Linked DNA regions of Homo sapiens. The protein of the gene in region 1 purifies or fractionates together with the protein of each later gene. This does not show direct contact. Each region holds a gene or a part of one and is shown on either strand. Other genes may lie near its edges.

Region 1 (5,408 bases):
AGCACGTTGGGACACTGAGGCAAGAGGATCGCTTGAGGCCAGGAATTCGAGACCAGCCTGGGCAACACAGTGAGACCCCTGTCTCCACAAACAGTAAATTAGCTGGGCATGGTAGCACACAACCTGTAGTCCCAGCTACTCAGGAGGCTGAGGCAGGAGGACTGCCTGAGCCCAGGAGTTTGAGGTTACAGCAAGCTATGATCGCACCACGGCATTCCAGCCTGAGCAACAGGGCAAGACCCTGTCTCAAAAAAAAAAAAAAAAAAAAAGATGGGGCTCTTGACACAAATTGCATGAGCTCAAATGACAGCTCCACCACCTGCTATCCCTTAGCTTTATGAGCCTCAGTTTCTTTACCAAATAATGGGGATAGCAGTAACTACTTCCACTGGCCAGTGATGAGGATTTCATGAGATAACACTGTGTAGCTTACCTCAATACCTCCATAACAATAAGCACTTAATAAAAAGTCAGGTATCATTAACCTCCTTGCTGTATCAAACAAGGGCTTCTCAACCCAAGCGGTACATTAGAATCCTTTGAGAAGCTTTACAAAAATAACAATGCCAAGGTCCCACCTCCCGCAATTCTAATTTAGTTATCTGGGGTGGGGCCCCAGCATAACAGCCAGGGTGAGGACCATTGTTTACACCATTTATTGATCACTTTCTCAAGTATAAGGCACTATGCTAAGTGCTTTCTAGGTGGAAACAGAATTAATTTGTTCACTCAACAAATATTTTTGATGGCTATATTGCAAGCAGCAAGAATACAGCAGTGAAAAGACAAAGCCCTTGGCCTTCATATAATTCAGAATCTGATAAACAGGATTTCAAAGCACAGATTCTATAAAGTGAGTGAAATAAACAGTAACTGTATGATGGGGAGGGAGAGTGTGCAATATTTTAGTGTAAGTAGACAGGAGAAGCCATTGAGGAGGTGGTCTTTGAGCTGTTATCTAAATGATGAGAAGACAGCAAGGCCTGTAAAGATCTAGGGGGCCTAAGTGGGGTGGTTCACACCTGTAACCCCGGTACTTTGGAAGGCTTGGTGGTGGAGGATCACCTGAGGCTAGGAATTTGAGAACAGTCTGGACAACACAGCAGGACACCCTCTCTTAAAAAACAAACAGGCCGGGCGCAGTGGCTCACGCCTGAAATCCCAGCACTTTGAGAGGCCGAGGCAGGCGGATCACCAGAGGTTGGGAGTTCGAGACCAGCCTGACCAACATGGAGAAACCCCGTCTCTACTAAAAATACAAAAAATTAGCCAGGCATGGTGGTGCATGCCTGTAGTCCCAGCTACTCGGGGGGCTGAGGCAGGAGAATTGCTTGAACCCAGGAGGTGGAGGTTGTGGTGAGCTGAGATCGCACCATTGCACTCCAGCCTGGGCAACAAGAGTGAAACTCCGTCTCAAAACAAACAAACACACACCCCAAAAACTAGGGGGACCAGCATTCCAGCCAGAGGGAACGCGAGTATAAAGCCCTGAAGGCAAAACCAAGTAGATTTGAATCCATGGCTCCAATACCCTGAATGCTTCCCCGATCCTGACAGAGGAAGCAGGCAGGGCAGCATACCACTGCCAAGAAATGACCCCTCCAAGTCAGCCCTCCCTGCCCAATTCCCTGGACTGGGGAGTCAGTAATAACAATGGTGCATAACAAGGCTGGTTACCACTGGCTAAGCATTAATTTCACATGCACTACCTGGACTTTAGGGCAGAAGCTACTACTAGGGCTTCCATTTTACAGATGAGGAACAAGGCTCAGAGAGGTCAACTCACTTCTGGCTACTCAGGCAGGAAGGCAGTAGCAGGGCTGGGATACAACCCAGGTTTCTGCAAGTGCAGAAATGATTCCCCATTCTCTAAACTTCTCAAGGTCTCAATAGTCTCCAGGCTGCTGCATCTGGGACTCACCAAGAATGAGAAGCTCCAGTCACAGCACCTGTCACACTTGGGGGCACACACTGAATCTAGTTCTTTGTTGTTACCCCAGTGCCTAGCATAGCACAGTCCAACAGAATTTTCTGCGATGATGGAATGTTTTATATCTGTACTGTCCAAGAAATGTGAGTCTCTAGTCACTGTGGCTGAGCATTTGAAATGTGACAAATGCAACAAAAAATTTTCATTTTATTTAATTTTAATTTATCTAAATTTAAATAGCCACATGTAGTGAGGGGTTACCATATTGGATGGTACAGGTTCAGTAGACCTGATAAAGGCATGATTCCAGTTCCACGTAACAGAACAAGAAAAGTGCAACACAGAGGGGTCAGGTCACCTGTCCAAAATAACAGCTAGTGTGGGACAGAGGGAGAACCAGTGTTGGGTATTTTTATAATTTCAACTAAACAGATCACATGGGGCAACAGGAACACTAAAGTTAACCCTTTAGGTGGTCATTCAACATGAAGGTCTTCACACAAACTGTAAAAAGAGGATAATGGCCCCAGACCTGTGCCTGGCTCCTAATTTTTTCTTTTTTTTTCTTTTTTTCTTTGAGATGGAGTCTCGCTCTGTCACCCAGGCTGGAGTGCAGTTGCGTGATCTTGGCTCACTGCAACCTCCGCCTCCTGAGTTCAGGCAATTCTCCTGCCTCAGCCTCCTAAGTAGCTGGGAGTATAGGCATGCGCCACCAAGCCCGGCTAATTTTTGTATTTTTAGTAGAGACATAACCTGCTCACCTTGGCCTCCCAATATGCTGGGATTATGGGCGTTTGAGCCACCGTGCCTGGCCTTTTTTTTTTTTTTTTTTAAATAGAGATGAGGTCTCACTGTGTTGCCAAGGCTGGTCTCAAACTCCTGGGCTCAAGCGATCTTCCCACTTCAGCCTCCCAAAGTGCTGGGATTACAGGCATGAGCCACCATGCCTGGCATGGATCCTAATTTAAGCACTTACTATATGTTAACTTTTAAATTAGCTCAGGTACTTGCACACAGGTTCCATCTAATTTTCATCTGTTTTGGGGCGGCGGCAGAGTCTCTATTTTGCACACAAGACTAAGGGTTCAAAGGTTAGGCACCAGCTGACAAGTAGCCAATCTGAGATCTGAACCCACGGCTGCCTGGCTTCTAAGGTCCATTCCACTTCATAATAACAGCTTTGGGAAGCAGCCCCAGCCTTGGAGAGTTGAACCCAGCTCAGTCTGGCTTCCAAGGGTTCTGTCTACTACCCATATCGGCTTCTTGGAGAAGCCCCAGACTTTATTCTCGGTTACCCTATATTATCCTTTATAGAGCCTGTAAGTCCCTGGTCTCAGCTACAGACACCTGGTTACCCACTCTGCCAGCTGGGAAGGAACAGACACTATTTCTCCTTCCCTCACCCCCAGCTGAATTCAGATATTTTCCTGGGTTTATGCCTGAGAAGACGATACGGAAATACAGCCCAAGCAGCCCAGGACCTCCAGCCTTGGAGTGGGCAGGGTGGAGGGGGTGTGAGTGAGTGGTGCCATACACTTGTCTGCCCATCATGAGCTGGGAACCACGCTAAGTGCTTTACACATCTGATTGTGCCAATTCCTCCCAACCACCCAGAGGGAAACAGTTCTTATAATCCCTTCTTCGGAAACAGGTCAGAGAGGCTCAGAAAGGTCCTCTTCCAAATGGGCACAATTCAGATCTGACTCCACGGCTGGAATAGTTCACAAGGGTCAGCTAAGCCAGCAAGGGGCAACTAGTCACGAACACTTATTAGGTGCAAAGAGCAGTGCTGGGGATGAGACTTGCAGGGTATCTCCAGCAAGGGACTATTTCACATAATTGGGACCAAAGCTCCTACAATGGAGGGAATGGAGGAGGGTGTGCAAGGGGACTTATCTAGTGGGGGAGGAAGGGCTTCCCTGAAGAAGAAATGATGTCTGAGAAAGTTTGTTTTGTTTTGTTTTTTTTGAGACGGAGTCTCACTCTGTCACCCAGGCTGGAGTACAGTGAAGCGATCTCGGCTCACTGCAACCTCTGCCTCCCAGGTTCAAGCAATTCTCCTACCTCAGCCTCCGGAGTAGCTGGGAGTACAGGCGTGTGCCACCACGCAGGGTTAATTTTTTGTATTTTTAGTAGAGACGGGGTTTCACCGTATTAGCCAGAATGGTCTCAATCTCCTGACCTTGTGATCCACCTACCTCGGCCTCCCAAAGTGCTTGGATTACAGGTGCGAGCCACCGCGCCCAGCCTGGTTTTTTTTTTTTTTTTTTTTTTGAGACAGACTCTTGCTCTGTCACCCAGGCTGGAGTGCAGTGGCATGATCACAGTTCACTGCAACCTCCGCCTCCCAGGCTCAAGCAATCCTCCCACCTCAGCCTTCGAAGTAGCTGGCGCACACCACCACGCCTGGCTAACTTTTGTATATTTTGTAGAGACAGGGTTTCAGGCTGGTTTTGAACTCCTGGGCTCAAGCAATCCATCTGCCTCGGCCTCCCAAAGTGTTAGTATTACAGGCATGAGCCACTGCATCTGGCCGAGAAAGTTATTCGGGAGCCCAATACTACCAGTACTAGAGTGAAGCCCTTGGAACTTTCTGAAGATACACACATCTGAAGGCAATGAGCTCCTGAAAGGGAGTGTGTGGTGAAGTGACAGGGAGTTAAGGGAGCTGCACGCCTGGGTCTTCTCTTGGACCTCGGGCACCTGACTCAAAGATCAGCACCCTGCTGTCTTCTAAGGATGCCACCACTCAAAGCAGAAACCGTCCGAAGGTCCTCTTTTCTCGAGAGAGGAATACACAGAAATCTCCCAGATAGGCCAGGTGCGGTGGCTCATGCCGGTAATCTCAGCACTTTGGGAGGCCAAGGCAGGTGGATCACCTGAGGTTAGGAGTTCAAGATCAGCCTGGCCAACATGCTGAAACTCTGTTTCTACTGAAAATACAAAAATTAGCTGGGCATGGTGGCGGGTGCCTGTAATCCCAACTACTAGGGAGGCTGAGGCAGGAGAATTGCTTGAACCTGGGAGATGGAGGTTGCAGTGAGCTGAGATCGTGCCACTGCACTCCAGCCTGGGCAACAGAGCAAGACTCCATCTCAAAAAAAAAAAAAAAAAAAGATAAGAAAAAGAAACCTCCCAGATAGCAGCAGTTTTCTCCACTGAGGAAACATGGCTTCTGTGTAAAGATCCCTCCCTCAAAGCCTTTTCTCCCTAGACCAGGCACTGACCCAGAGAGGGGTGTACAGTGTCTGATCTCAGGAACAGGCTCAGGCACCCCCTTGTGAGACACTCTGGAGAAAGCTGTGCGTGCCATGGCCACGTTCTGATAATAGCAAGCAAGTATCACGCAGTTACTATGTTCCAGTCACAGTGCTTCAGCTTTTGCTTGTATTCTGAGTTAATTCTCCCAACAATCCCTTAGAGATACTGTAAAATCCCCATGGGAAGAAACCACAGATCAGAGAAGTGATTACTGGCT
Region 2 (3,500 bases), about 15 Mb from region 1:
GTTACACTGCTTTCCAACACTGTGTTGAGACAGGTCCTGGCTAGGATTTTGGATTCATCCTTTGAGTGAGTTTAAGCTACTAAAGGAATTCCACAAGACAGTAACATTATATCTGCATTAAAAAAAATTCCCTCTGGTGGCCGGGCACCATGGCTCACGTCTGTAATCCCAGCACTTTGGGAGGCCAAGGCAGGCGGTTCACGAGGTCAGGAGATCGAGACCACCCTGGCTAACACAGCGAAACCCCGTCTCTACTAAAAATACAAAAAATTAGCTGGGTGTGGTGGCGGGTGCCTGTAGTCCCAGCTACTCAGGAGGCTGACGCAGGAGAATGGCGTGAACCCGGGAGGCGGAGCTTGCAGTGAGTCGAGATCACGCCACTGCACTCCAGCCTAGCGAGACTCCGTCTCAAAAAAAAAAAAAAAAAAAAAATTCCCTCTGGCTACTGTGTGATTTAGAAAGCACCCTCCCACCGCAGACTAACAACTAGGGGAGATGACAGTGGCTTAGACTAGAGCTACTCAAAGTAGCCATTCTGTGAACTGTGTGAGACTGGGTCTTGATGAGATAATGCCAGGATGCAAAACCACCACTATCTTTCACGGTGAAAGTCTTATTATGGAAAACAAAAAGTCAGCTGAACTAAACAGTGAACTTAGTTGTATTTCAAGGGATCTTTAGGATAGGACAGAAAAGAACTGGTGATTAATTATAAGTCAGGACATAGGAGGAAAGTAACAAAAAGGAAGGTATCAAGGATGATTAAAGTAGCATTGGAAACCAATACGCTGCAAAATGATTTTTTTCTTTTTTTTTTTTGAGACGGAGTCTCGCTCTGTCGCCTAGGCTGGAGTGTAGTGGCGCAATCTCGGCTCACTGCAACTTCCGCCTTCTCAGTTCAAGCGATTCTCCCACCTCAGCCTCCTGAGTAGCTGGGACTACAGGGGCATGCCACCATGCCTGGCTATTTTTTGTATTTTTAATAGAGATGGTGGTTCACCATATTGGCCAGGCTGGTCTCGAACTCCTGACCTTGTGATCTGCCCGCCTCCACCTCCCAAAGTGCTGGGATTACAGGCGTGAGCCACCGCACCCAACCTACTGCAAAATGATTTCTAAGTTAGCTACAAAAAGTAGATAGTTATTCCTGACTACCACACCCCATCGAAAAGTCCCATCAAATTGTACACTCTTATCGCCATGCTCCTAAAAACAGAAAAGGGGTCTATTTATTGGCAAAGAAGGAAATCACAGCAATTACTCACCCTTTCTTTCTCTGATCCTTGGTTTTAGGGTGGGATACTAAACCAGGCAACCTCTCCTTCAGGTTTGACTTAGCTAGTGTGGGTGGGATATTATGTGTTGACTATGCTGGATACTGCCAAAGTTCTTATCTAAAAAAGCATGTACAAGAGACTTACTGGAGTTTTAAAAAAGAATTTTTTTGTTAAGGGATGGTTTGGGGCTCAGAGCATTATCAGAATAGGAAGGCTATCCTAATTCAGCAGTCATTTGTTTATCACTCTGTCTCCAGAGCCCAGTGCAGTGCCTGGCACATAGGATGTTCAATAACATTTCTCTAAATAAGTGAATTCGCTATGGTTTTTTCTCCCCACCACCACCTCTTCCCCTCTCGCTATATGTTCTAAGCACGGCAAACTGGACATTTAAAACTAATCATAATTAGTACAACTTTTCTCAAGATGAGATCACCTTAACACTAGTGTCAACACTACTTTCCTTTTGTTCTTTGGTACTAAATACTTTTTGTTTTCAAATGCCAGCCTGTTTCAGCTATGCAAGGAAAAACCAAGGAAAAGCGTTTTGGCCCACGTAAGGCCAGGGTTAAAAGGGGAAGAGCACATGGTTGTGGGTCAGCACTATAAGGACAGAGTTGGGCACGTGGTCACCTCATCTTCTAGGACTAAAATCACGGCAAATCTAGGTTTAATAAATGAACCTTTCCATGACTGTCTGCACTAAGTTAGGGTCCTATGTTGGGCATTCACACAGCACTCTGTATTTTTTCTTCATGACACCTGCCAGAGTTTATAATTAAGAATTTGTAGGGGCCGGGCGTAGTGGCTCACACCTGTAATCCCAGCACTTTGGGAGGCCGGGGTGGGTGGATGACCTGAGGCCAGGAGCTCGAGACCAGCCTGGCCAATGTGGCGAAACCCCACCTCTACCAAAACATACAAAAATTAGCCGGGCATAGTGGAGCACATCTGTAGTCCCAGCTACTTAGGGGACCGAGGCAGGAGAATCGCTTGAACCCAGGAGGTGGAGGCTGCAGTGAGCCAAGATTGCACCACTGCACTCCAGCCTGGGCAACAGAGCAAGACTCCATCCATCTCTCCATCTCAAAAAAAAAAGAATTTGTATACTTTAATGTTTGTTTCCTGTATAAGTCTGAAGATCCAGCGAGGTGGAGGCCATGTCTACATATTGTTTCTTTTCTTTTTTTTTTTTTGAAATGGAGTCTCGCTCTGTCACCCAGGCTGGAGTGCAGCAGTGCCATCTTGGCTCACTGCAACCTCCGCCTCTTGGTTCAAGTGATTCTCTTGCCTCAGGCTCCTCAGTAGCTGGGACTATAAGCACGTGCCACCACACCCAGTTAATTTTTGTATTTTCAGTAGAGACAGGGTTTTGCCATGTTAGCCTGGTCTCGAACTTCTACCTCAGGTGATCCACTGGCCTCAGCCTCCCAAAGTGCTGGGATTACAGGTGTTAGCCACCACACCTGGCCTATACATTGTTTCTTGCTGTAACCCTAGAGCCTAGCACAGTGCCAAGACATACTAAGTGTTCTAATAATAACTGTTGAATACATGTATGAACAAGGAAAACTAATCTCACAAGCTGTATTTATTCTGTTTCCAGCTATTCTTAATTTGTTACCAATAATTTCTAATTTTTCACTCTTCTATCAACATGGTTTTTGTTGACGAAGAGTTCCTGTCCTTTATTCACTTCATCTTTCAATCATTTATGGACAAGGTAAGCTATTCTATTTTTGGAGTTTTTCCTTTGCTTCCACAAACATCGTTTTTACCACATTTTCACTAGTATCTTCTTCTTTATTGTTCCTGGAACCCTGGGGGAGTGCAAATGGGGGTTCTAACAGATTTGCTTTATGTTCCATTAGCTTTGTTTTAGAAAGAACAGTGTTACAGAAAGAAAGTGTTGTGATTTGACAGCTAAGACTCTGGGTGAGCTTCCTCCTGTGTAAAAATACCAGCTAGCCCAATGATGTGTGAAAGCACCTTGTAAAAAGTAACGTGTATAAATGCACAGATTAGTAATAACAAAGTGTTGCTGTTTACCTCTCTTCTTTGAGTCAGAAGTCCTGCACAGCCATTCACTTCAGTGTTGTTTCTTTGTTTTTTTTGCCCATACCTGTTTAGTTGGTAGAGTTGGGAATGTCCTCACATAGAGCCAGAATCTGTCTTTTTGATAATATCTTGACCTACTCTTAAAATCTGTTGTCTTGAAAATAT

Evidence for each region.
Region 2: the proteins of SESN2 (region 1) and SZT2 purify together in Homo sapiens (affinity purification with western blotting; one study listed by BioGRID and IntAct). This does not show direct contact.

The regions. Positions count from the first base shown.
Region 1 is NC_000001.11:28,261,418-28,266,825, reverse strand, and holds part of SESN2 (sestrin-2), read right to left. Parts: intron 1-5,408. UniProt on the Homo sapiens protein: Functions as an intracellular leucine sensor that negatively regulates the mTORC1 signaling pathway through the GATOR complex. In absence of leucine, binds the GATOR subcomplex GATOR2 and prevents mTORC1 signaling.
Region 2 is NC_000001.11:43,396,399-43,399,898, reverse strand, and holds part of SZT2 (KICSTOR complex protein SZT2), read right to left. Parts: intron 1-3,500.